Linked DNA regions of Homo sapiens. The protein of the gene in region 1 purifies or fractionates together with the protein of each later gene. This does not show direct contact. Each region holds a gene or a part of one and is shown in the gene's direction. Other genes may lie near its edges. The genes, in order: EDIL3, CSNK1G3, ZBTB18, HADHB, ITGB5 and CD226.

Region 1 (4,051 bases):
TATATCCACTTCACTTGTGGAGAAGCCACTTGCCTTGAAGCTTCATCCACATACCACATAGCTGAGAACCTAGGATAAAGAATCAGAAACTTCTGACCACAAAAATAGATGTCATAGTTAGGTCTTAGATCATGTATCATAGAAAAGCTTATTTCTCTTGGCTTTCAAGTTTCTGGGTCCTCTATAAACTGAATCCAGAAAGTGAAAAGCATATGAAGTAATAGGTCAGGCTTAATCAGAGCAGTAAAACATGCCAACTTTTAGACAAAGAGGAGACTCGAATAGTATATGTAAAAGCAGTGATACTTTGCAGTACAAAAAACTGGGTACATGCAGTTGGGAGGGTTTGGGGTGGGGAGTGGTAAGTGTATCACCATATAAGAGAATGCAATAACTGGTGATAATGCTGGTTTTGCGACCTAGAGAAAGCCTCACTGCAAGATGTTCAACATTTTTTGGGTGCAAATGCAGTGAAATGTATACATTATTTAAAAAAAGACTTGGTCAAAAATGTTTAAGCTTGAAAACCTGCTTAATGGTGAAATAGCTAGATATCTGAACAATGTACTTATTTAAGACTTTTCCCGTTGTGTCAAATAAAATGTTGGTATTTTAAAATTATTTTTCTTCTAAGGTAATAAAGTTTTAGAAGACACAAAACTGAATTTTGTAAAAAAGAAGTAGACCTTACAATGTAGATAAAATGTCCTGCAATTATTTGGTTATATTTTAGAAAATGTGCTGCTATTTTGTTTTAAAATATGCATTATTATAGTGATAGTAACTGTGTAGGAATTGTTCAGATTTATAGTGTGTGACTTAGAATGGAGGATTTAAGTACAAGAATTTAGGTGACGGCTTTTTAAGCACTAAAGCACTTTTGAATGTGGTTGTTACTATGGAGAAAGAAGATTGACTTAGCTTTGCCTTTTATCTTTTCCAAAACAGGTTTGTATCAAAATGATTGATCTCTTAAAATAATTTAATATGATATAATATTTCATAAATGGGAAGACCAAGGTTTTAATCTCTTGTTAGATGATATATGCTTGATTTGAAGATGATAATCTCTAAATGGGGTTAGGCCACCATGCATTCCTTAAGGTTTGTGCTTGGTATTTAACAAAGTGGTATATTTTGGGAATGCAAAATAATCCTTTAAATCCCCTCTTGTATTTTAGGTCAGGGGAACCATTTAGATTTTACTGATTCTGGGGATTATTTGAGGTCAGCCAGGATGAAATGGGCTCATGACACAATCAGGAAAGTCCAAAACAATTGAGTGGAAACATTGGAGAATATTTTTTATTTGAAATAAATGGACAGATCCCTCTCTGTAATGTAGAGCAGTCTCCCACCTACAGGCCTGAGCCTTAGGTCTGTGCTCACATCTCTGCTTCACTCTTTTTTTTTTTTTTTTTTTGAGACGGAGTCTCGCTACCCAGGCTGCAGTGCAGTGGCGCGATCTCAACTCACTGCAAGCTCCGCCTCCCGGGTTCACACCATTCTCCTGCCTCAGCCTCCTGAATAGCTGGGACTACAGGCTCGGCTAATTTTTCTGTATTTTTAGTAGAGACGGGGTTTCACCGTGTTAGCCAGGGTGGTCTCAATCTCCTGACCTCGTGATCCACCCGCCTTGGCCTCCCAAAGTGCTGGGATTACAGGCGTGAGCCACCGCGCCCGGCCTCTGCTGCACTCTTTATCACATTTTCTTTCCAAATACTATATGAACTTTAATTTTAACTATGCTATTTTTTCTGTTTATTTATCTTTCTATAGTTTAACTTCTGTATTATAAACGCTAACTTTTCTGGAATGTTGTTTACAGACAAACAAAAACCAAATTACCATTCGCAGTGCTTTAATGTTTATATACCAAGTTCTTGTTTCATGTTTTGTGCTTTCTACTGAGCTAGGGCTTAGAATAGTACCAGGCAAAACAAACAAGAAGACCCAAACAGACACTTAATATATACTGAATTGAATGTAGCTACCCACCCCCATCAGTTTGCCTGTAAACGTACTTGCACATTTTAAACAGCAGTGTGTCTCTTATATATAAAAATAGGTCAAAGTAGTTTCAGGAACTTTAAAAGCTGTGTTTTTCACTTTCTTACATAACTATTCCTTATAATGTGTGTTGTAGAATGAGCCTACTTTGAAAATATTTCTCAACACTCCTGCAAGAGCACTGTTGATAATATAATATTCAAGTGCAGGCAGGATATAAAGTACTTAACTGTGTTTGTTATGAACCTTCAATTAAAAGAAAAGCTGCTTCTAAGTGATTTTTCCCTTTTTTAGGTGCAAGGTTCTGACATTTCTGACTAAATTTGATTTTGGCCTAGAAACAGTAATTTTTCAGGCATCATTTTGTGTTTTTATTTTTTTTGCTTTCTTTTCATTACTTAGGGACCACCATCATGTCAGCATTAAGAGTCTTAGATAAGTTAACAAGGTACATTCTTTCTAATATCTTTCAAGTCTAACATGTATTGACTGCATACTATGTGTTCCACTGTTCTAATTATCATCTTTAATTCTCAAAACTATTGAGGCAGGTGCTATTATTATTGAAATATAAATGAGAAAATGGAGATATAGAGATCATAGAGCTACTAAGTAGCATGTTAAAATTAGGATCTAGAGCTTGTCCTCTTAACTATTAGGCGATGCTCTGTCTCAGTGAGTGACACATCTTGTATATCATGGAGATATTTTGTTAAATGATTTTATTATTTGTAAAACACACATTATGTCTAACCATTATTTCACTAGTAATTATTTTAGAAGGATTAAATTATACTTATTCTCTTGGGACAATAATTTAAAAATTTCAAATTTAGGTTGGTAAAGTGTAAAGTTCTTTTTTCACATTCAGAAATAAAAGAGTATGCTCATTCATTTGGTCAGAAAGTGTTAATGTGTTAGAATGCATCACTGGTAAGAAGATGAGCACTTGGGAAGTGGTTTGAAATACATTTTCTTTAAATCTTGCCATTTAGTTTGATTTCAGCACAATTTTTTGATTTATTTTAATTTTCTAGGATTTCATTGCTCCTCTACATTGTTTCATTGCTATTCAATGTGATGTGTAGAAGCATGCTTTCTCTGTAATTTTCAGATACATCAGGTAGTACAAAGTGACTTTAGAGGTTAACAAGGTTTTTATTTCTCCTAGTGTAATGAAGATATTTAATTTGCCTTACATCTCATCCTCATTTAATTTTATTTCCACATAACCCCATTAAGAAGTTTTAGCCAAACAAAAGCACCAAATAATCTCAAACCACATCAATTAGAATATTTTTTTTTCTGGTTTATGTGAAGAATTATTCAACCAAAATATGGTTTATTTTTTTAAAAAAACTTCAAACTGCAATCATTTTAAGTATTTTACAAAACAATGAGAATTATGCTGTATTATTCCATTTTCACACTGCTATAAAGAAATACTCGAAGGCTGGGCGCAGTGGCACATGCCTGTAATCCCAGCACTTTGGGAGACTGAAGTGGGCGGGTCACGAGGTCAAGAGATCGAGACCATCCTGGCCAACATGATGAAACCCTTTCTCTACTAAAAATACAAAAAATAGCTGGGCGTGGTGGTGTGTGCCTGTAGTCCCAGCTACTCAGGAGGCTGAGGCAGCAGAATTGCTTGAACCTGGGAGGCAGAAGTTGCAGTGAGCCGAGATCATGCCATTGCACTTCAGCTTGGTGACAGAGAGAGACTCCGTCTGAAAAAAAGAAAAAAAAAAAAAAGAAATACCCGAGACTGGGTAATTTATAAAGGAAGGAGGTTTAATTTAATTGACTCACAGTTCCACATGGCTGGAGAGGCCTCAGGAATTTACAATCATGGTGGAAGCCGAAGGGGAAGCAAGGACCTTCTTCACGTGGCAGCAAGAGAGGGAATAGGGAAGGAGGAACTTCCAAACACTTATAAAACCATCTAATCTCCTGAGAACTTACTCACTATTCAAGAACAACACAGGGGAAACCACCTCCATGATTCAGTCACCTCCCTCCTTGGACACTTGGGGATTACAGG
Region 2 (2,738 bases), about 39 Mb from region 1:
GCCATGCAATGGTGTCTGTGTAATTATTTTGCTCTTTGATTAAAAAAAAGACCCCCAGCAATAAAAAGTGGGTCACTCTATGCCCTCTGTGCACATTAGTCTCTTGTATTCAACTTTGCTGATTCTCTGGAATTTTCCTACTCTTTAGCATAATTTTGATGATTGAAAAATATTTTGGAAAGGATGGGTCAGGTGCTTTGCCTCCATAGTCTTTTGAAGTGCCTGCATATGAACAACAACAACAACAACAAAAAATTCTGTAAAAAAGGAAGCCCATTCCACTTTTCAAGTATGCTTTGTTTTAAGCCATAAAGACACACATGTAGTTTTGTCACATTCTACTAGCCAAAATTTTCAAGAAGGGTTAAAACAAAGACTGGCTAGAAAGATAATTATTTTGAATAAATCTCATATTCATCTTTCATTTATATAATTGTTACTTATTCCTCCCATGCAGTCTCTTCGTTGTCTTTAAGTGTGTGCCTCCAGGCATGCTTATTTATTTTTATTGTCTCAAGGTAACATTTAAGATGTATATTAAAGTAAAGCTACATTTTTTTACTTCATTATTGCATTTACAGGGATTTAATTGTACTTTGTAATTTATTTTTCTTATTAGCCAAAAGTTTAATGCATTTTTTTTTGATGAATTAGGCACCCACATGAACACCACAAATCAGGACATTGTTTATCATTGTTGCTATGAATCCTATGAATGATCTTTTTTTTATTTTAAAGACCTACACTTAACCTACAAAACATTTGCTGTATAATTTGGTCAACAGTTTCTATCTATCTGTATACTGTCATGATGTCTTAAACTGCAGGAGTTACATACTGAGTTTATATTTTTATTTGCTTTGAGCAAGGTAGATAAACATTTTGGCCATTATAATGTGAAACCACTTCTTCTTTCTTTACAGTATTTGACCAAACTTGTGTGTCTATGATATTTGTAAATACATGCGAATATCTGTATTTCTTATCATAAGCCTATTTAGTTTTATTCTCAGTAGGGTTTTTTGGATTGTACAGTGTTTATATGATCTGAACTCCTTATACATAAGAAGGTGTGTATATTAATCCAATTATGGACTTAAAATATTTTAAAAGTATAAATACCCTTATTTGCTGCAAAGACCAGTGTGTAGGCATTTGCTTTTTAGCAATATTTTTAAGTGCTCCATTTTAATGCCGAGGAATAAGTCTTTTGGCAACACAAACTGGTCAATAATAGGTAATGCAGGTATGTTCAGGTTAAGCCAACAATGTTTTGCATTTTTATGCTTATTTTCTGTCAACACTAATGAAGTCAACATTGCCTGAATGTCTGAATAATGAAACACATCCCTGTTTAAAAGTATGTAACTGAAAAAGAAATAAAAAAAAATAAAAGTAGTTTTTTTAAACTTGCTCTTTCCCATTTCCTCTAAAGATGGGTAAAATAATGTCACTCCCTAATTTAAGATAGGAATTATAAAAATTTGGTTTATTTAGTCTGTTATATATGAGAAGCAGAGCTAAAGGAATATGCTTTTGTTATTTTATGTTTTGTTTTGCTTTCTTGAAATCCAGTGGTAAAAAGCACACACTAGGAAGGATCTAAGCTTTCTTTAATATAAAAAAAATTATACTTCTCTGAACTGTTTAATAGAGCAATAATTAAATACATCTTCTGATAAATTAAGGGAAATAGCATCATTTTTCCTTTTTGAGAATGGAATCATACTATTATGTTCACAGAAATTAAGCATTATTCCAGTTTTAAGTGAATGACTTTAAAATCATTGTAGATGGGGAGCCCATATTTCTAACAGTATCTCATAGTTCATCATTGTGCTAGGTGCTTTAAGGGATTTTACAAAATGGCATTAATGGTACGCTACTTACTGAGGGATGCTACAGGTAAGAAAAGGCAAAGCAGCCCTCTCTCACCCTGTGAATATTGTGTCCATTAAGCAGCAGAGACCTTCAGAAGCAGGAGAAAGATCTGGAGATGACACAAAACTGTTAAAGGCTCTATTTAGAAAAATTCGACTTTAAGATTGGGATTTCAGTCTGAATGAATGTATAGTTGCATTAGTCAGAACTCTTTGAATTGAAAGTGACAGAATTTAACCTGGCTTGAGCAATAAGAGTGTACATTATTTCATTTAACTGAAAAGTTCAGTGGTAGGACTGCCTTCAGACATGCTTAATCCTGGAGTTAAGACAGGAATCTTCTCCATATCTTTTGGTTTTGCTTTCCTACCCTGCTGTTTTCACTGTCAGGAAGACTTTCCATGTGTCATGGTAAAGTGGTCATCCAGCAGCTTGAGACTTCTACCCTACCATCTTAGTAGTCTCAGCAAAAACAAAGGGCCATTTTTCTCAATATTTCCAACAGAAGCTTAAGACTGACATTCCCTTATTGGTTGATGTGCCCACCCCTGAGCCAATTACTATGGACAAGGGAATATTGTTCTCCCAGTAGCTGAGCCTGAGTCATGGTTTGACCTTGAGGAGACACAATGGTGATGGAACTGGTTGAGAAGAGTTAAAAACTTTTTTTTCTACTAGAGTGCAAATAGAATTATAAAGATTTGCTGATATTCAGGATAACTAATTTCTTCTCTGCCCAATTCTAATACAGACCCACATAAATTATTTTCTTAGGACATTTACTTGTTCATAAGACTACATGGATCATAACCAAAGAAAGGACTATATATAGAAGAATGATCAGGTAATATTATTGG
Region 3 (4,245 bases), on another chromosome or scaffold:
AAGGAGAAGATGAAAAATTGAACATCCTGCCCAGCAAAAGGGACTTGGCGGCCGAGCCTGGGAACATGTGGATGCGATTGCCCTCAGACTCAGCAGGCATCCCCCAGGCTGGCGGAGAGGCAGAGCCACACGCCACAGCAGCTGGAAAAACAGTAGCCAGCCCCTGCAGCTCAACAGAGTCTTTGTCCCAGAGGTCTGTCACCTCCGTGAGGGATTCGGCAGATGTTGACTGTGTGCTGGACCTGTCTGTCAAGTCCAGCCTTTCAGGAGTTGAAAATCTGAACAGCTCTTATTTCTCTTCACAGGACGTGCTGAGAAGCAACCTGGTGCAGGTGAAGGTGGAGAAAGAGGCTTCCTGTGATGAGAGTGATGTTGGCACTAATGACTATGACATGGAACATAGCACTGTGAAAGAAAGTGTGAGCACTAATAACAGGGTACAGTATGAGCCGGCCCATCTGGCTCCCCTGAGGGAGGACTCGGTCTTGAGGGAGCTGGACCGGGAGGACAAAGCCAGTGATGATGAGATGATGACCCCAGAGAGCGAGCGTGTCCAGGTGGAGGGAGGCATGGAGAGCAGTCTGCTCCCCTACGTCTCCAACATCCTGAGCCCCGCGGGCCAGATCTTCATGTGCCCCCTGTGCAACAAGGTCTTCCCCAGCCCCCACATCCTGCAGATCCACCTGAGCACGCACTTCCGCGAGCAGGACGGCATCCGCAGCAAGCCCGCCGCCGATGTCAACGTGCCCACGTGCTCGCTGTGTGGGAAGACTTTCTCTTGCATGTACACCCTCAAGCGCCACGAGAGGACTCACTCGGGGGAGAAGCCCTACACATGCACCCAGTGCGGCAAGAGCTTCCAGTACTCGCACAACCTGAGCCGCCATGCCGTGGTGCACACCCGCGAGAAGCCGCACGCCTGCAAGTGGTGCGAGCGCAGGTTCACGCAGTCCGGGGACCTGTACAGACACATTCGCAAGTTCCACTGTGAGTTGGTGAACTCCTTGTCGGTCAAAAGCGAAGCACTGAGCTTGCCTACTGTCAGAGACTGGACCTTAGAAGATAGCTCTCAAGAACTTTGGAAATAATTTTATATATATATAAATAATATATATATATATACATATATATAAATAGATCTCTATATAGTTGTGGTACGGTCTAAAAGCAGTCTTGTTTCCTGGAAATAAAAAGTTGGGATATTAACTTGTTTTTGCACTTTAGAATAGCATGAGAATCTCACTAATTTAGCATTCTGATAAAAGAAACTTTAGAGCAAGTCAGAATAGAGAGGTGTTTTTCCTTTGAGGGGATAGGGGAAGTAAGCCAATAAGAACCTTTTAAACAAATCGTCCTGTCACAAAATGCTTTCATATGGCTTAATTTTGTCAACACTGCATTGTCTTTTGAGCTCTTTTTTCCCCCCCAACAAAGTTTTTTTGTTTTTTGTTTTTTTTTTTAAGTAGAAATTCCCTCCAGTTTTATTAGCCTCTTTATATGTCTCAAATTGCATGAATTTTTTCTGGCTGTTGGAAACCTGAATGCTTTTAGACCCAAATGGAAAATTTCTGAAATGCTGGATTATCTATTTTTAAACAAGCAGTTGACTTAAAACTTTCTGTGGCAACTTCTGGTTTTCTGACAGTTCCCAGTGAGAGAAATGCTGAAAGTACACTGGGATCACTGGGACACTGTCTTATGAAGGTTTGCTTGGGATGAAAAAGGATATTGCAGCTTCAGCAGTGTTGAACTGTGTGTTTAAAAATGTGAATTACTGTTATTGTATACTGTAATTGATTACATGGGCTGGGGGGGTGTCAAAGAACTTGACAGGTTGTGTTGATGCTCTTAGTTGAGTCTTGAAAAGTAAATATTAACGCTACAGAAATGCATGAGTTTCAATATATTTTTTGTCTTTGTTTGCATTGTATAACTTTAACGAGTGAGTTTAAAATTATTTAATTTCCTTAGAAAAATAACACCATTTGGAAAAAAAAACTGGTGTTATGAAGAACGTAAATGCACTGTTTTTATTTTTATTTTATATAATTTAAATTGACTTTCCCACTGTCTTTAAGTTGAAACTGTTAAGCTGAATAAAAACTTAAGCTGCAAATTGATAACTTCGCTACATAACAAGGAAAATATAAATGTTTACAAACAGCTTAAAGATTTGCATGTGCAGTGTGCATTTATAACAAACTTCTAATTGCACAAAACCCATGCCAGCTCAGAGTTTAGGTGTACACATTTACCCAGTTGAGCGTTCTTAGAATAACTACTGCACAAGTTGACAATAGGTCGTTCTCTCTTTTTTTTTGTTTGCTCCCTTTTTCTTTTTCTCCCCTTCCTCCTTACCCTCCCTCCCTTACTCTCCCCCCCCACCACCACCCTCCACCCCCAACTCATGAAAAGATTCTATGGACTGAAAAAGCCCCAGGCTGAAAGGACTGGACTGCCTTGATTGACATGGGGAAGGGGGTTAGTAGACTATGTGGATTGCGGCAGCAGAGGCTGCAGCCTAACGTGTGGTTTTAATGACCAGCACGCAAGGCAAAAGCATTTTGCACAGTGTTTGTTTTCCTGTCTTGCACTTACAAATAAGGTCTATGGGAGTAGCATGGAAAACGTTTGCTGTTTTTCCCTTTTTTTTTTAATTGCTTTTGTTTAAAATTTGATCGCCTTAACTACTGTAAACATAGCCTATTTTTGTGCTTAAGATACTGAATGGAAAACTCCATTGTGTGTTGCTGGACTGTTTTGGAAATATTTGGTTAAATGTGTGTTAATTTGGCTGTAATGGCATTTAAAGCAAACAAACAAACAAAAAAAGCTGTGAAAATGGCCTTGGAGCATTATCTTTAGTTACTTGAAGAGTTTCTAGTTTTTTTAAAATACAGTTTATGTTAAAATAATTTTTATTAATTTAGAGAAGACAATCAATGTCTGTGAGAAAACGGACTTTCTTTTGGATTTTCTTTTTGTGGTCATTGTGAGTGATTGCTTTTTCCTTTTCTTAGTTTCACATTCTTCCTTTGTTCTAAAACTTAGACTGACATCTAGCTTTGACAATCATAGTATGTTTTATTTTCCTGAGGGGGAATAACTTATAATGCTGTTTAGTTTTGTACTATTGGTGTGTTGGTGAATTTTTAAACTGTGTGCTAACTGCAATAAATTATATGAACTGAGAATTTCTTGTGTGTATTTTTTATTGTGATTATGTAGTGTATAGATTCTAAATATGTATCATACCTGGCATCTTTAATATCAATTCTATTCGGAGTTTATGAAATTATTAGAATGCCTTAAATCACTCGAGTGGAAAATGTGTAAGCATTCTAGTCACTTAAGAAGATACTAAATGCACATTTAAAAAATGCGACCCATTTTCACAATCTACATCAAGAATGTTGAGGTAATTCCCTAGAAACTCATGAATCATGAAACTACGTGGCAGCATAGGTTGTTAAAAATACACTGTACAACTACTAATCCATATACCGTAAGTCACTTTTCGTGTGTAATTTTATCCTAAGTTGATCGGTCAAATCTATTCTCCTGTGTTCTGGTTTAAGTGGAAAATTGAAGGAGACCGGATGTTTTAATTTGGAAGACTGCTTGGCTAATGACTGGAATTCTAGGCAATTGAATTAGCAGGCATGCAATTGTTCACGATTAGCTATATACATCCTTTTTGTTGCTGGGAGAACTCGAAAGTTTCTAGGTTTTAATTCTCAAGTTTTAATTTAAACATGTAATTAAATACATGGACCATTAAAAGAACTCTGTTCCCTACTTTTTATGATTGTCCCAACTTCATGCTTATCTAGTTGGGTACATGTCAGGGTGAGAAACATTGCTGGTTGACCTGGGTAGGGAATTGACAGAACACTCACACATGCGGATGATACTGTAGAGGAATTGTCACAAACAACCCTAAGCTCAAGCAGTCAGGTGCAGGCATGGAGAGGTTTTGTAAACCGTGCTTGTCTCTAACTTCCAACCTTAAATAGAAATATGACTATGAAATTTTACATTATTACTGTCAAACTATGTTTATATTCAGTGGCCTATAGTAAGGTCAATATTTTTAACCTACAGAAGTGGGATATAAGGTCTGAAGTTTGAAAATGGACCATTTACCAACTACCTGGTGGCTTTGGATAGGAAGCCACAGGGATTTTGTCATGAAGTATAATAACATAATTTGGAATCCTAATTTCCATCCCCCTGCCTTTTTTT
Region 4 (4,051 bases), on another chromosome or scaffold:
TAGTTAGAATATATATATTTAAAATATATACATTTAAATATTTAATCTGTCTGGCATTTATTTGTGCTTTCGCTGTGAGCTGCGAACCTAAAATTTTTTCCAAATGTTTAGCCATTTTCCCAGTGAATTCATGGAATAATTTCTTTCTCTCAGCTAACTCAAGTGTTATATTTATTATACACTAAATTCTTACATACATGGGTCTGCTTCTGAACTGCTACATCCTGTTTTGTTGATCAGTGTCGTTTATTCCTGTGCTAAAGCTGCTCTGTTTTAATTATTGGTTCTTTCTAGAAAGTGTTTTGTTTGTTTTTTTTTGAGACAGGATCTTACTCTGTTGCCCAGGCTTGAGTACAGTAGCGTGATCATGGCTCACTGCAGCCTCGAACTCCTGGCTCGGGTGCTCCTCCCACCTCAGCCTCTTGAGTAGCTGCGACTACAGGCACATGCCACCATGCCCAGCTAGTTTTTTGTATTTTTTGTAAAGACAGGGTCTCACTAGGTTGCCCAGGCTGGTCTCAAACTCCTGGGCTCAAGTGATCCTCCCACCTCGGCCTCCCAAAGTGCTGGGATTACAGGTGTGAGCCTCTGTGCCTGGCCTAGAAAGTTTTGTTATCTGTTGCAACAAGGTTCCCCCTTTTGTTTTTCAACATTTTCTTGACAATTTTCATGAATTTTATTTCAAGATGAACCTTACGTAAGGGAACTTGTAGCCCAGACCCTTGTGGCATTGTAAGTAGCTTCTGAGTGGTGCCTCTCTCATGGGCCTCTTTGTGTTTCTCTGGCCAGAGTCCTTTGAATATCCCTAGGCTGGTGATCCTAAAGCTTGGGCTTCTCCATCTCTTTCCAATCCACATGTTTGGAACATGTTTTGTTTTTTTCTTTTCGGAAGCTATAGGACCTCCTTCTTTTAGTCTCTAAAGACCCAAGAGAAGTTAAACCTTAAAGCTTTTGTATTATCTATTTCTGTGTAGCCAATTACCGCCAAATGTAGCAGTTTAAAACAATACATGTTTACCATCTCATAGTTTCTGAAGGTCAGGAATCAAGGGCACTTTAGCTGGGTTGCTCTGAGTTTCCCATAAGGTGGCTGTCAGAATGTTGGCAGGGCTGGAGTCAGCTGAAAGCTTGCCTGCGCTAGAGGCTCCGCTTCCAAGCTCACTCACATGGCTGTTGGCAAGAGGCATCAGTTCCTCACCACAGGAGCCTCTTCATAAGGCTGCTCAGGACATGCCACCTGGCTTCTCTCATAGTGGGTGAGCTGAGAGAGAGACCACGACAGATGCTGCAGTATCTCTTATAGCCTATCTCAGAAGTGGCATACCATTACTTGTAACATACTTTTTGGTTTATACATTCTGTGATATGGAGAGGGAGGCAGCTAGACAAGGATGTGAATACCAAGAGGTAGAGATTATTGGGGGGCAACTTGGAGGCTGGCTACCAAAGTCTTTGTTGGTAAATCTTGTGGGATTTTTTTGGTTTTGATTTTTTGTTGTTGTTGTTAAAACATGCTTCAAAATTAAGAAATTATAAAAGGTGTGTGATGACAAGTCTTCCACCCCTGACCCCTAGTTACCCAGTTCCCTTTCTTCCAGCCAACAATTATTTTTAACATCTTTATTATACTTCCAGGGGGATTTTATACTGATACAAGGAAATGTACATAATATTTTTCCTCTTTTAACATGAATGATAGCATGCTGTACAGCTATTTTGCACCTTGCTTTCTTCACTTAATGATACAGCTTAAAATGGTTCCGAATTGGTGCATAATCATTTCCTTACCTTTTACAGCTGCATAGTATTTCACAGGGGTGTTGTAGCATGGTTTACTTACCCATTTTCCTATTTTTTGGTTATTCTAATTTTTGACTATTACAGTAACAATATGGATTATGTCCTGTGTGTGAGTAATATCCATGAAGTCAGTTCATGGAAGTGGAATTGCTGGTTCAAACATTAGTTTCAGTTATAGTTTTCATGGATAATTACCAAATTGCCCTCCCCATGGACTGTGCCAGTTCTCTTGGCAGCAGTATATGAGAATATCTATTTGCACATACTCTTACCTACACAGAGTATATATCAAACCTTTGAATCTTTGCTACTTTGAGAGACAATTATATCTGTGGTTTTAATTTGAATTCTTCTTATGAGTGAAATTGAACATCTTTTCATATACTTAAGAACCATTTGTATTTCCTTTTCTGTGGTCTGTTCATATTCTGTGCCTATTTGTCTGCTAGTGTTTTCCTTAGTAATCTGTAGGAACTCATTGTTAGAAATTTAGTCTTTTTTGGAGGGGTGGGGGAAAGTTGTTAATATATTTTACATATTTTTTAACATATAGGGTTATTATATGTTTTACTTTTTTATTGTTTTGAAACAATACAGTATCAAACTTTGAAAAAGTTGCAAGTGCAGTACTACAAACTTTTTTTAGTAGCAGTTGAGATTAAGTTGCTGACATGATGCTTCACCATCCCTATTTAGTGTATATTCCCTTCAGATACAAACATTCCACAAAGCCTTCTACATAATCATAGTACAGCCTTCAGAATCGTGAAACTAATACTAATGGTTTTATTATCACGCCTAGCAGTCTCTCTGCTTCTTTGACCCTAAAGGAGAGGAGCACACACTCTAGAGGTAGACTTCCTAGGTTCAAATTCCAGCTCTGGGCCTGGTGCGGTAGCTCACGCCTGTAATCCCAGCACTTTGGGAGGCCAAGGCGATGGATCACCTGAGGTCAGGAGTTCGACACCAGCCTGGCCAACATGGCAAAACCCCATGTCTACTAAAAATACAAAAAATTAGCCGGGTGTGGTGGCACGTGCCTGTAATCCCAGCTACTCGGGAGGCTGAGGCAGGAGAATCGACTGAACCTGGGAGGCAAAGATTGCAGTGAACCGAGATTGCACCACTGTACTCCAGCCTGGGCAACAAGAGCAAAACTCCATCTCAAAAAAATAAATAAATAAATAAATAAATAAATAAATAAATAAATAAATAAAAATTCCAGCTCTGCCACTCACTAGTTGTAGGTCTTTTGGCAAGTCACTCAATCCTACTATGCCTCAATTTCCTTATCTCTTACAAAGGATGTAATAATCATGCCTCCTTTGTAGGTCATTGTGAAGATTAGATGGTTAATGCTTAGAATAGTGGTTGCTGCAATGTGAAAACCATGTTGGTGTTCCTATCATAATAATATTATTAGATGAAGAATAGTTGATAAGATTAAGTTTTAATGTTTTCTAGTAGCCATGGATGAGGTTATCAGAGTTCATAGACTACAATGTAAACTACAAATTGTTCAGCTAATCCAGGATATACTTTTGTTCTTCTCTTTTTAGATTCCAGAATGACTATCTTGACTTACCCCTTTAAAAATCTTCCCACTGCATCAAAATGGGCCCTCAGATTTTGTAAGTTTATTATTATTTTTTTATTTTTAGAGATTGGATTTGGATTTATAAACATCTCGCACAGATACTGAATGGTATTGCTTTTTGTAAACAGTTTATTTTGTCTTCCAGCCATAAGACCTCTGAGCTGTTCCTCCCAGCTACGAGCTGCCCCAGGTACAGTAATTTGTAAAATAAATATTTCTGATTTAAATGTTAGATTCCAGATTCTATAGTTTGTGAACTCTGAATAAAAACCAAAACTAATTTGCTAATTCTCCCCTTTTTATGAGCACATGAACATCTCTGTTGCCTTCAAATTAAAAAATTATAGGTCCAATCAATAATGATACTACATTATTTAGGATTAGGCTTGAGGATGTTAATGGGAGGCTGTTTTCTGGGATTTGAACCTGCTGGAGTCATGGAGGTTCCATAAACCTCGTTGGTCAGTTTATTTATCCTCTTGCTGTCCGTCCTGGAGGTGAATGGCATACAAATGCTCTTGAGACCTGCTATGGAACCAAAAGTTAACTTTAAATTTGCAATTTGTGAAATGCTTCTCTATTGATGAATATCTTCTTCTCCCATGTGCAAGAGGGCCCATTCCTGAAATAGAAGTGATTAGGAACTAGTTAATA
Region 5 (4,051 bases), on another chromosome or scaffold:
CTCTTCTCCATGAAGCATGGGAGCTTGCTGGTTCTGAGGTCTCTTCCTACTCCGGCCATCTTGGTGGTTCTACCTGAGTGCGTGGAGAGGGCTGGAGTTCGCAGCTGCTCTTCATCAAGGGCCCTGCCCCTGGGTGAATGGGAGACCCTGGCTTGCCGCAGCCATGATATCCCTTCTCTTCCTTCTGCCCAGGCATCTTTTGAAGTATCATTGGAGGCCCGAAGCTGTCCCAGCAGACACACGGAGCATGTGTTTGCCCTGCGGCCGGTGGGATTCCGGGACAGCCTGGAGGTGGGGGTCACCTACAACTGCACGTGCGGCTGCAGCGTGGGGCTGGAACCCAACAGCGCCAGGTGCAACGGGAGCGGGACCTATGTCTGCGGCCTGTGTGAGTGCAGCCCCGGCTACCTGGGCACCAGGTGCGAGTGCCAGGATGGGGAGAACCAGAGCGTGTACCAGAACCTGTGCCGGGAGGCAGAGGGCAAGCCACTGTGCAGCGGGCGTGGGGACTGCAGCTGCAACCAGTGCTCCTGCTTCGAGAGCGAGTTTGGCAAGATCTATGGGCCTTTCTGTGAGTGCGACAACTTCTCCTGTGCCAGGAACAAGGGAGTCCTCTGCTCAGGTAAGTGTCCCCAGCAAGCACTTTAGCTCTGAGCCAGGCCAAGATGCCGTTAGGACACCCTCCCAAAGCCTGCCTTTTACTCAGTGGTGGTAGAAAGTGTCACTACCATGGCTCTCCTTGGAGAAGACAGTGGGCAAGCCTTGCTACCCGTAGGCAGGAGGTGGGGATCTGTGTGCAGAATACGAAAGCAGAAGGTATTGCCATAAATTGTGGACTCTCAGAATTCGAGGGGCCTGCGTGGGTCATCCACCTTACTTCCCAATTCATGCAGGACTGGCCTGCACAGCATTCCTGACAGGTAGAGATGTTCAGCCTCTTCTTGATTGCCTCCTGGGACGGGGAACTCACTGGGGCTGGCAGTGGCCATCTGTCCCTTAGCCAATGAACTCATATCTTATTGCTGCTCCCATAACTCACCACAAACCTGTTGGCTTAAAATAATACACATTTAATCCATTACAGTTCTGGAGGCCAGAAGTCTGAAATGGATCTTATTTGGCTAGAATCAAGGTGCCAGCAGGGCTGCATACCTCCTAGAAGCTCCAGGGGAGAATCTGTGTCCCGGCCTTTTCCAGTTCCTAGAGGCCACCTGTATTCTTTGGCTTGCAGCTCCTTCTTCCATTTTCAAAACCAGCAGAGTAACATCCTCAGATCTCTCTGACTCTGACCTCTGCTTCTGTTGTCAAATCCTTCTCCCTCTCCTACAGACCCTTGTGGTTACAAGGGACCCTCAGTCGAACCCTGGAAAGTCTCCCCATCCCCAGGTCCTCAGCTTACTCACATCTGCACAGTCCCTTTCACCACGTAAGGCCACACAGTCACAGGTTCCAGGGATTAGGATGTGGACATCTCTGGGGGCTCTTATTTTTCCTGCCAGAATTCCTCTTTTTTTTTTTTCTGAGATGGAGTCTCACTCTGTTGCCCAGGCTGGAGTGCAATGGCAGGATCTCGACTCACTGCAACCTCTGCCTCCCAGGTTCAAGCAATTCTCCTGCCTCAGACTCCCGAGTAGCTGGGATTATAGGCGCCCGCCACCACACTCGGCTAATTTTTGTATTTTTAGTAGAGACGGGGTTTCACCATGTTGGCCAGGCTGGTCTTGAACTCGTGATCTCAAGTGATCCATCCACAGCCTCCCAAAGTACTGGGATTATAGACGTGAGCCACTGTGCCCGGCCCAGAATTCCTCTTTATACTGAAGAGAAACTTGTTTCTCAATAACTTCCTCCCAATGGTTAACATTCTAGAGTCCCCCTTCCACGTGACAACCTGTCAAACATCTAAAAGCTGCTTTATGTTTCTCTGTTCTCTCTTCTGATCTAGGCTAGACACCCCAAGTCTCTTCCTTGTCCGAGGGTGCTATCATTTGTGAAGCATGCTTCACATAATCAAGTGCGTTACTTGTCATGCTGGATGATGAGGGCTTGGTCCAGGGTTCAGTGAAGCATGCGTTTCCTGTGATTTGGACATTCTGCTTACATGGATGCACCCTGACAATACATTCACCTTTTTTTATTTTCTTCTTCTTCTTCTCCTTCTCCTCCTCCTTCTCCTCCCTTCTCCCTTCCTCTCTCTCTCTCTTTCTTTCTTGTTTCTTTTTTTTTTTGAGATGAAGTCTCGCTCTGTTGCCTAGGCTGGAGTGCAGTGGCACAATCTCAGCTCACTGCAACCTGTGCCTCCTGGGTTCAAGTGATTCTCCTGTCTCAGCCTCCTGACTGGCTGGGATTACAAGCACCCACCACCACGCCTGGCAAATTTTTTTTTTTTTAAATAGATATGGGGTTTCCCCATGTTGGCCAGGCTGGTCTCGAAGTCCTGACCTCAGGTGATCCACCCACCTCAGCCTCCCAATGTGCTGGGATTACAGGTGTGAGCCACTGCGCCCAGCCCACCTTTTCGTTCTGTTAAACAGTCACAGTATACTCTTGAGCTGGTTTTTAACTTCACTACCAAAAGTTTGAGGCTTTTAATTTATTTTATTTTTTAGAACTGTGGTTCAGAAGGAGAGGTACTTTTTTAGTGTGTTGTGTTGGAGCCCTTAATTTTCTGAATCTAAACACAGGAGTTTACACTGATTCCAGTTAAATGACAAGTTGGCAGTTCCCACTCTGGTATTGCGTTCTGATTAAATGCTTCAAAATTGTATCTCAAAGTTTATCTAACACCATGCCACCTGTAAAGGTAGTAAGTAAAACAGTTTTAGGCAGGGCTGTGGTTTCTTCTACACATCATGTATTCTGTGGTTTCCAGGGCTCCCTCCTTAAGAATGGTCTTCCAATTGGGATGGGTGGATTTGAAAGGAACTAAGGGATCAGCTGGGAAAGAAAGCACAAGGTGCATCTGAAGCAAACCAGGAACGTGCAGATACTCCGTCCTATGGGAGGAGGAATTGTACTGCCACACAGGGTTGCACAGACGTGGGTTAACAAGGGAAGCTTCCTGGAGCGGACCTTGCCGTGACACAAGCGTGAGTACACCCATGGGCGTCGTGGGACCAGCATGTCTAAAACTGGAGTTGCCCTGGAGAGTGCAGGACTTAGCAGTGTCATTGCAGAGTAAAGTAGGTGGAAAAATCAGGATTCAACATGCCAAGCATGCAACAGGGATCAACGCTTTCCTCAGCAGAGTGATGATAGGTTGGTGTTAGCTAGATGGTTCTGTCTGGTTAGTAGAAAAAGTTTGGGCTCCATAGCAGGAGGCCTGGGCCTAAGTCCCATCATACCATATCTGCTAGTGTGACTTGGGCATAGAGTTGTTATGAGGAATAAGAGATGTGTGTGAAGCACCCAGTATTTTGCCTGGCACAAAAGGAAAACACACCCAATGCTGGCTCCTCTATGAGTCAGTGCCACACCCCTCTGGGGGGGCCACACCTGGTTCCCCATGTGCAGGAGGGCCCCGCCTTCCCCCAGACAGTCCCCAGGCTTTGCCTAAAAAATTCCAGGGTGGTGGAATGGAGTTTCCATTCCTCTTAGTAGCCATAATAAAAGCTCTAAGCAGCCTGGCAGGCTTTTTAGCAGTTTTTCTTTTAAAGAGATATTAGCAAACGTGACAGAACCATCCCTCCTTCCCCTTCAGGATCCTGAAATAACCCTCTGGTATGTCTTCACCCTAGAAGCCTGCGTGTGTCCATGCAGCCTGGGAGCAAGGGCGTTTGAGTCAGATGCTGTGTGCACGTTTCATCTCCACAGTTCATCAGGCTGTGACCTTGGTTGTCTTGGACTTTGGCTTTTCCTGTCTCCTAAGATGGGCCAACACCATTTGTTTCTGCATTATTTTGAGAATTGAAGGAGAAGACAGAGATGAAGGCCCTGGCCTGGTACTCGGTAGGGAACAGGACCCAGTGGATGTTAGATGCCTCCTCTGTCTTGCTGAGACTGGGCATTTCTCTGAGTACAGAGCCTGGGAGACAGGGCAAGTGGGAGATGG
Region 6 (4,544 bases), on another chromosome or scaffold:
GCGAAGTTGTGTGCACCGCTTTCTCCATCAGCTCCTCGGCGGCTCCATGTTCCTCTCAGGAATGTGTTAACGTCACAGGCGTTACTGAGAGCCTGCTTTGCCTGAGGAATTGTGCTGGGTGCTGGAGTTACAGAAGTTAGCATGACGCCGCGGTTTCTGATTGCTACGTTTCAGTTCCTTTATGTGTGTCACTCAGGTCACTTTTCAGTCCAGACTCAGTCTCATTTTCGGTCACTTCCCCACCCACTAGACTGTAGTCACACCATTTCCTGAAACACCCGCATTGTCACGCCTCTGTTTTCCCCCCACTTTTTCTATAAAACCTTTTCCACAATCTATTAGAATGATTTGTTCTCTCTGGCTTTCATAAAACTTAGCAAATGACTTGTATAGAGATGATCATGTTTTGCTACAATAAATTGCTTTTAAAATTAATATGACCCACTATATTATGCATAACCTGAGAGCAGAGATGTGTCCTCTTTATGATTGTATTTCCAAGGGACTAAGCAGAGGACCCAGCATAACTCAGTACAATTTGGAGGAATTGTTGGGTTGACTTATTTACAAAACAGAGATAACAGATGCCTCTTTTGACTACATCACAAAACAACTAGAGGCACAAATAATATCATAGATGTGAAAACTTTTAGAAAATATAATGCCATATAAACACAAGGTGACACCATGCTTGATTATATGTACACATTACAATTTTGTTCTGATTATCATTGCATTGTTGATTTTATGTTCCCTGAGAAAGTTCCCACATTAGATATTCATGCTGAGTAGTCGACACTTGCTGATACACTTTGAGACTGAGTCACAAACAAAGTTCAGGGTCGGCATTAGATAAAATTGTCTTCAGTGGTTTCTGCTCCTACTTTTCCCAATTTTTACTCATCTTCTATTTTGACAGTCTTACCAGGGTCAAATGCATTTATACAATTCCTCTTTTTGTAGGGGTATACTTTTTATACTAACATGCTGATATGTTCCTAACAAGTTCTTAAGAATTGGAACTTGTACCTAACAAGTTCTTAAGAATTGGAACTTGTATTTTATAAGAGAAAGAAGAGAGCAATGATGAACCTGAAAAATGAATCCTGTTTTGATATTGTACTATAATTATGTAAGATATGACCCCTGACAGAACCTGGGGACAGGGACCTGTCTGTACTCTCTTTGTGACTTACTGTGACTCTATAATTATTTCAAAATCAGAAGTTAAATCTCTCATAATGGTAGATCTGCATATGCCCTGGGCCAGCATACTTTTGTATCTGATGGGCTTTTGATCTGTTTTTTGGTCCTCATCAAAGCAAATGTCTGAGATCAGCAAGGAGGAAGAGGTGAAAGGAAGGCCACAGGATGGGCTGTCAGCGCTGGGCGTAGGCTCCCTCCGCCCACTTCAGCCTCTGCCTCATCTTATGCTCTCAGTGAGGACTTCTCTGCTCCATGCATGCACCACCTTTCACTTATTATTTATATTTTTACATCTTTATTTTAGTTTCTGCCTCCTCCACATAGAATGTAAGTTCTATCATGGCAATATTTTTTTTTTTTTGTATTATTGTATCCTCATTGCCTACAGCTGAGTTAGGCACAGAGAATGCATGCAGCACATGTTTGTTGAATGAATGACTCCTTGTAGAAAATGAAAGCCCGAAAATAAGCCGACTGGTTCCCCGAGAGAGAAGAAACTCAAATCTGCCCATCCTCATAAAGGAGCAAACCTGTCTTTTAAGCTAAGGCCTTTTTCCTGTGTTCATACTTCAGAAAAAGAAGACACGACTGATAACATCTGAGAGGAAGGAAACTGCATTGTGCTGGGGATCTGCATGTCACATTATAAAAAGCAATTTTTTTTTTTAATAGAACCAGCCTTTCAAACAGTTTCCAGAGATGGATTATCCTACTTTACTTTTGGCTCTTCTTCATGTATACAGAGGTAAAGATGATCTTTATATTTTCATTTAAAAGTTTTGCTCCTGTTTTTGTTTGTACAGTGTGGCATATTCAGAATTTACAGTGCTCTTTAGTTGGCTAGGATAATTTCTCACTTGTTCAGAAAAACTAAAAGTTACATTTTCCAATTATCAGCAGGACGCCTTTTTAGACAAAGGCAGAAACTGTCAGCCTTTACTGTGATCTCAATGCACTAGGTCTTCAAAAGCTTAAGATATTGATTTGGTGTTTCCATCATCAAGGCTAACAATTAATGTGATGTTGTATATTTCAGCTCTATGTGAAGAGGTGCTTTGGCATACATCAGTTCCCTTTGCCGAGAACATGTCTCTAGAATGTGTGTATCCATCAATGGGCATCTTAACACAGGTGGAGTGGTTCAAGATCGGGACCCAGCAGGATTCCATAGCCATTTTCAGCCCTACTCATGGCATGGTCATAAGGAAGCCCTATGCTGAGAGGGTTTACTTTTTGAATTCAACGATGGCTTCCAATAACATGACTCTTTTCTTTCGGAATGCCTCTGAAGATGATGTTGGCTACTATTCCTGCTCTCTTTACACTTACCCACAGGGAACTTGGCAGAAGGTGATACAGGTGGTTCAGTCAGGTAAGGGCAAGTTTTTTTTTTTTTTAAATCCCTTTTTATCCACTTACAACATTTATTTCTATAAAGCCCAAGTAGAAGCTATAGAATGTCTTCTCGTATTTCTGTGGCATTCTCCAATTCCATTTCTAGATGCTTTGATGTTACTGCTTTGAAGGAGCAATCTTGGGAGTCTGTTTCATTTTTCTGACTGTGCTGTTGTGTCCGAGTAGAAGTGCCTTTCAAATTTGAATGTAGTAGAAGAAAGCACAGGTTTTTTGTTGTCTTAATGATAACCTGAGCCTTGATTAAACTGATGTTGGCAACACATGGGTTCAGGATCCTTTCAGGGTTTTATCACAGTGACATAGCACCATTCCCTTCTGCTGGACACTCCAGCACCCACATCAACCCCTGTGTGTTCAAGGTTCTTCCTACAGTACCAAATCTAAGTTTGTTTTCTTTCTTTCTTTTTCTCTTTCTTTCTTTCTCTCTCTCTCTTTCTTTCTTTTCTTTCCTTTCTTTCCTGTCTTTCTTTCTTCTTCCTTCTTTTTTTTTTTTTTTTTTTTTTTTTTTTGATGGAGTCTTGCTCTGTCACCAGGCTGGAGTACAGTAGCATGATCTTGGCTCACTGCAACCTCCAGCTCCTGGGCTCAAGCGATTCTCCTACCTCAGCCCCGCAAGTAGCTGGGACTACAGGTGTGCACCGCCACGTGATATGGTTTGAATTCCCATGTGTTGTGGGAGGGACCTGGTGGGAGGTAATTGAATCGTGCGGGCAAGTCTTTCCCATGCTGTCCTCATGATAGTGCATAAGTCTCATGAGATCTGATGGTTTAAAAAAGAGGAGTTCCCCTGCACTAGCTCTCTCTGTTTGCCTGCTGCCATCCATGTAAGACGTGACTTCTCCTTGCCTTCCACCTTGATTGTGAGGCTTCCCCAGACATGTGGTGCTGTAAGTCCAATTAAACCTCTTTCTTTTGTAAATTGCCCAGTCTTGGGAATATCTTCATCAGCAGGGTGAAAACGGACTAATACACCATGCCAGGCTGATTGTTGTATTTTTTGTAGAGATGAGGTTTCAACATGTTGCCCAGGCTGGTCTTGGACTCCTGAGTTCAAGTGATCCAACTGCCTCGGCCTCCCAGAGTGCCAGGATTACTGGCATGAACCACCAAGCTTGGCCCTGGCTCTATCTTTCACCTCATCCAGGTTTAGCTAGAGAGGACACTTTCTTCATAAATTGTGAGCTGTGGTGTCAGAAAGAACCCAATGATCCCTTGGAGTGTTTTTTGCTTTATCTACCAGAGATTGTGGTTTTGTCTTTCTAGTGATGACTACATGAACTGGTTGTAGTATATTGGAAACACTTGGGTTTATAGTCATCACTTTCCATCAACCTGGTGTTAGTTGCTCGATCCCTCTGAATCTCAGGTTCCTGAAGAGGAAATGGGGTTGGTAGTGCCATTCTACTTGTTGAATGGCTGAGGGACGATATATTTAAAGAACTTGGTCCATGGTAGTCAGAGAATGATACATCTTATTATTTCCTATGCTTGTGATCCAAAAGGACTAATAATGAAATTTTCAGATATTAGTGACAATCTAAAGCAGGGAATATTTTTGGAACTGTGTGTTTCTTGTGTGGTGTCTCTCAAATTATACTCATGGCTGTACAGAGAAGAACATTTTATGACATCTGACATAATAGTGCTTTATTTTTAAGGGATCTGTGCTCTAAAAGAACAAGTACAGAATTATATGAGGAATATCAAATGGTCAGGAGATAAGAAACATCTTCATATATTTAGTTTTCCCTTTCTCTTTAGGTGTAGCTAGGGTGAAGACTAATTTTGTGTATATAGCTGAGGCTTATAGAGTGTCAATTTACAATGTTTCTTTAGTTAAATGTTTATTTATTAAAGACTCTGTTTCACCATACAAGTCCTCATTTGCTGTTGTATGTAGACACCTGTTAAATCCTGCTTGG

The links.
Region 2: the proteins of EDIL3 (region 1) and CSNK1G3 purify together in Homo sapiens (affinity purification with mass spectrometry; one large-scale study listed by BioGRID and IntAct). This does not show direct contact.
Region 3: the proteins of EDIL3 (region 1) and ZBTB18 purify together in Homo sapiens (co-immunoprecipitation; one large-scale study listed by IntAct). This does not show direct contact.
Region 4: the proteins of EDIL3 (region 1) and HADHB fractionate together in Homo sapiens (co-fractionation; one large-scale study listed by BioGRID). This does not show direct contact.
Region 5: the proteins of EDIL3 (region 1) and ITGB5 purify together in Homo sapiens (affinity purification with mass spectrometry; 3 studies listed by BioGRID and IntAct, with this or other methods). This does not show direct contact.
Region 6: the proteins of EDIL3 (region 1) and CD226 purify together in Homo sapiens (co-immunoprecipitation; one large-scale study listed by IntAct). This does not show direct contact.

The regions. Positions count from the first base shown.
Region 1 is NC_000005.10:84,374,680-84,378,730, reverse strand, and holds part of EDIL3 (EGF-like repeat and discoidin I-like domain-containing protein 3 isoform 1 precursor), read left to right. Parts: intron 1-4,051. UniProt on the Homo sapiens protein: Promotes adhesion of endothelial cells through interaction with the alpha-v/beta-3 integrin receptor. Inhibits formation of vascular-like structures. May be involved in regulation of vascular morphogenesis of remodeling in embryonic development.
Region 2 is NC_000005.10:123,615,363-123,618,100, forward strand, and holds the end of CSNK1G3 (casein kinase I isoform gamma-3), read left to right. Parts: 3' UTR 1-1,687; downstream 1,688-2,738. UniProt on the Homo sapiens protein: Serine/threonine-protein kinase. Casein kinases are operationally defined by their preferential utilization of acidic proteins such as caseins as substrates. It can phosphorylate a large number of proteins. Participates in Wnt signaling.
Region 3 is NC_000001.11:244,054,283-244,058,527, forward strand, and holds the end of ZBTB18 (zinc finger and BTB domain-containing protein 18), read left to right. Parts: coding exon 1-1,088; 3' UTR 1,089-3,194; downstream 3,195-4,245.
Region 4 is NC_000002.12:26,250,888-26,254,938, forward strand, and holds part of HADHB (trifunctional enzyme subunit beta, mitochondrial isoform 1 precursor), read left to right. Parts: intron 1-3,359; 5' UTR 3,360-3,367; coding exon 3,368-3,431; intron 3,432-3,542; coding exon 3,543-3,587; intron 3,588-4,051. UniProt on the Homo sapiens protein: Mitochondrial trifunctional enzyme catalyzes the last three of the four reactions of the mitochondrial beta-oxidation pathway.
Region 5 is NC_000003.12:124,792,959-124,797,009, reverse strand, and holds part of ITGB5 (integrin beta-5 isoform a precursor), read left to right. Parts: intron 1-192; coding exon 193-622; intron 623-634; exon of another isoform or gene 635-3,089; intron 3,090-3,737; exon of another isoform or gene 3,738-4,051.
Region 6 is NC_000018.10:69,944,768-69,949,311, reverse strand, and holds the start of CD226 (CD226 antigen isoform a precursor), read left to right. Parts: upstream 1-1,438; 5' UTR 1,439-1,905; coding exon 1,906-1,951; intron 1,952-2,242; coding exon 2,243-2,578; intron 2,579-4,544.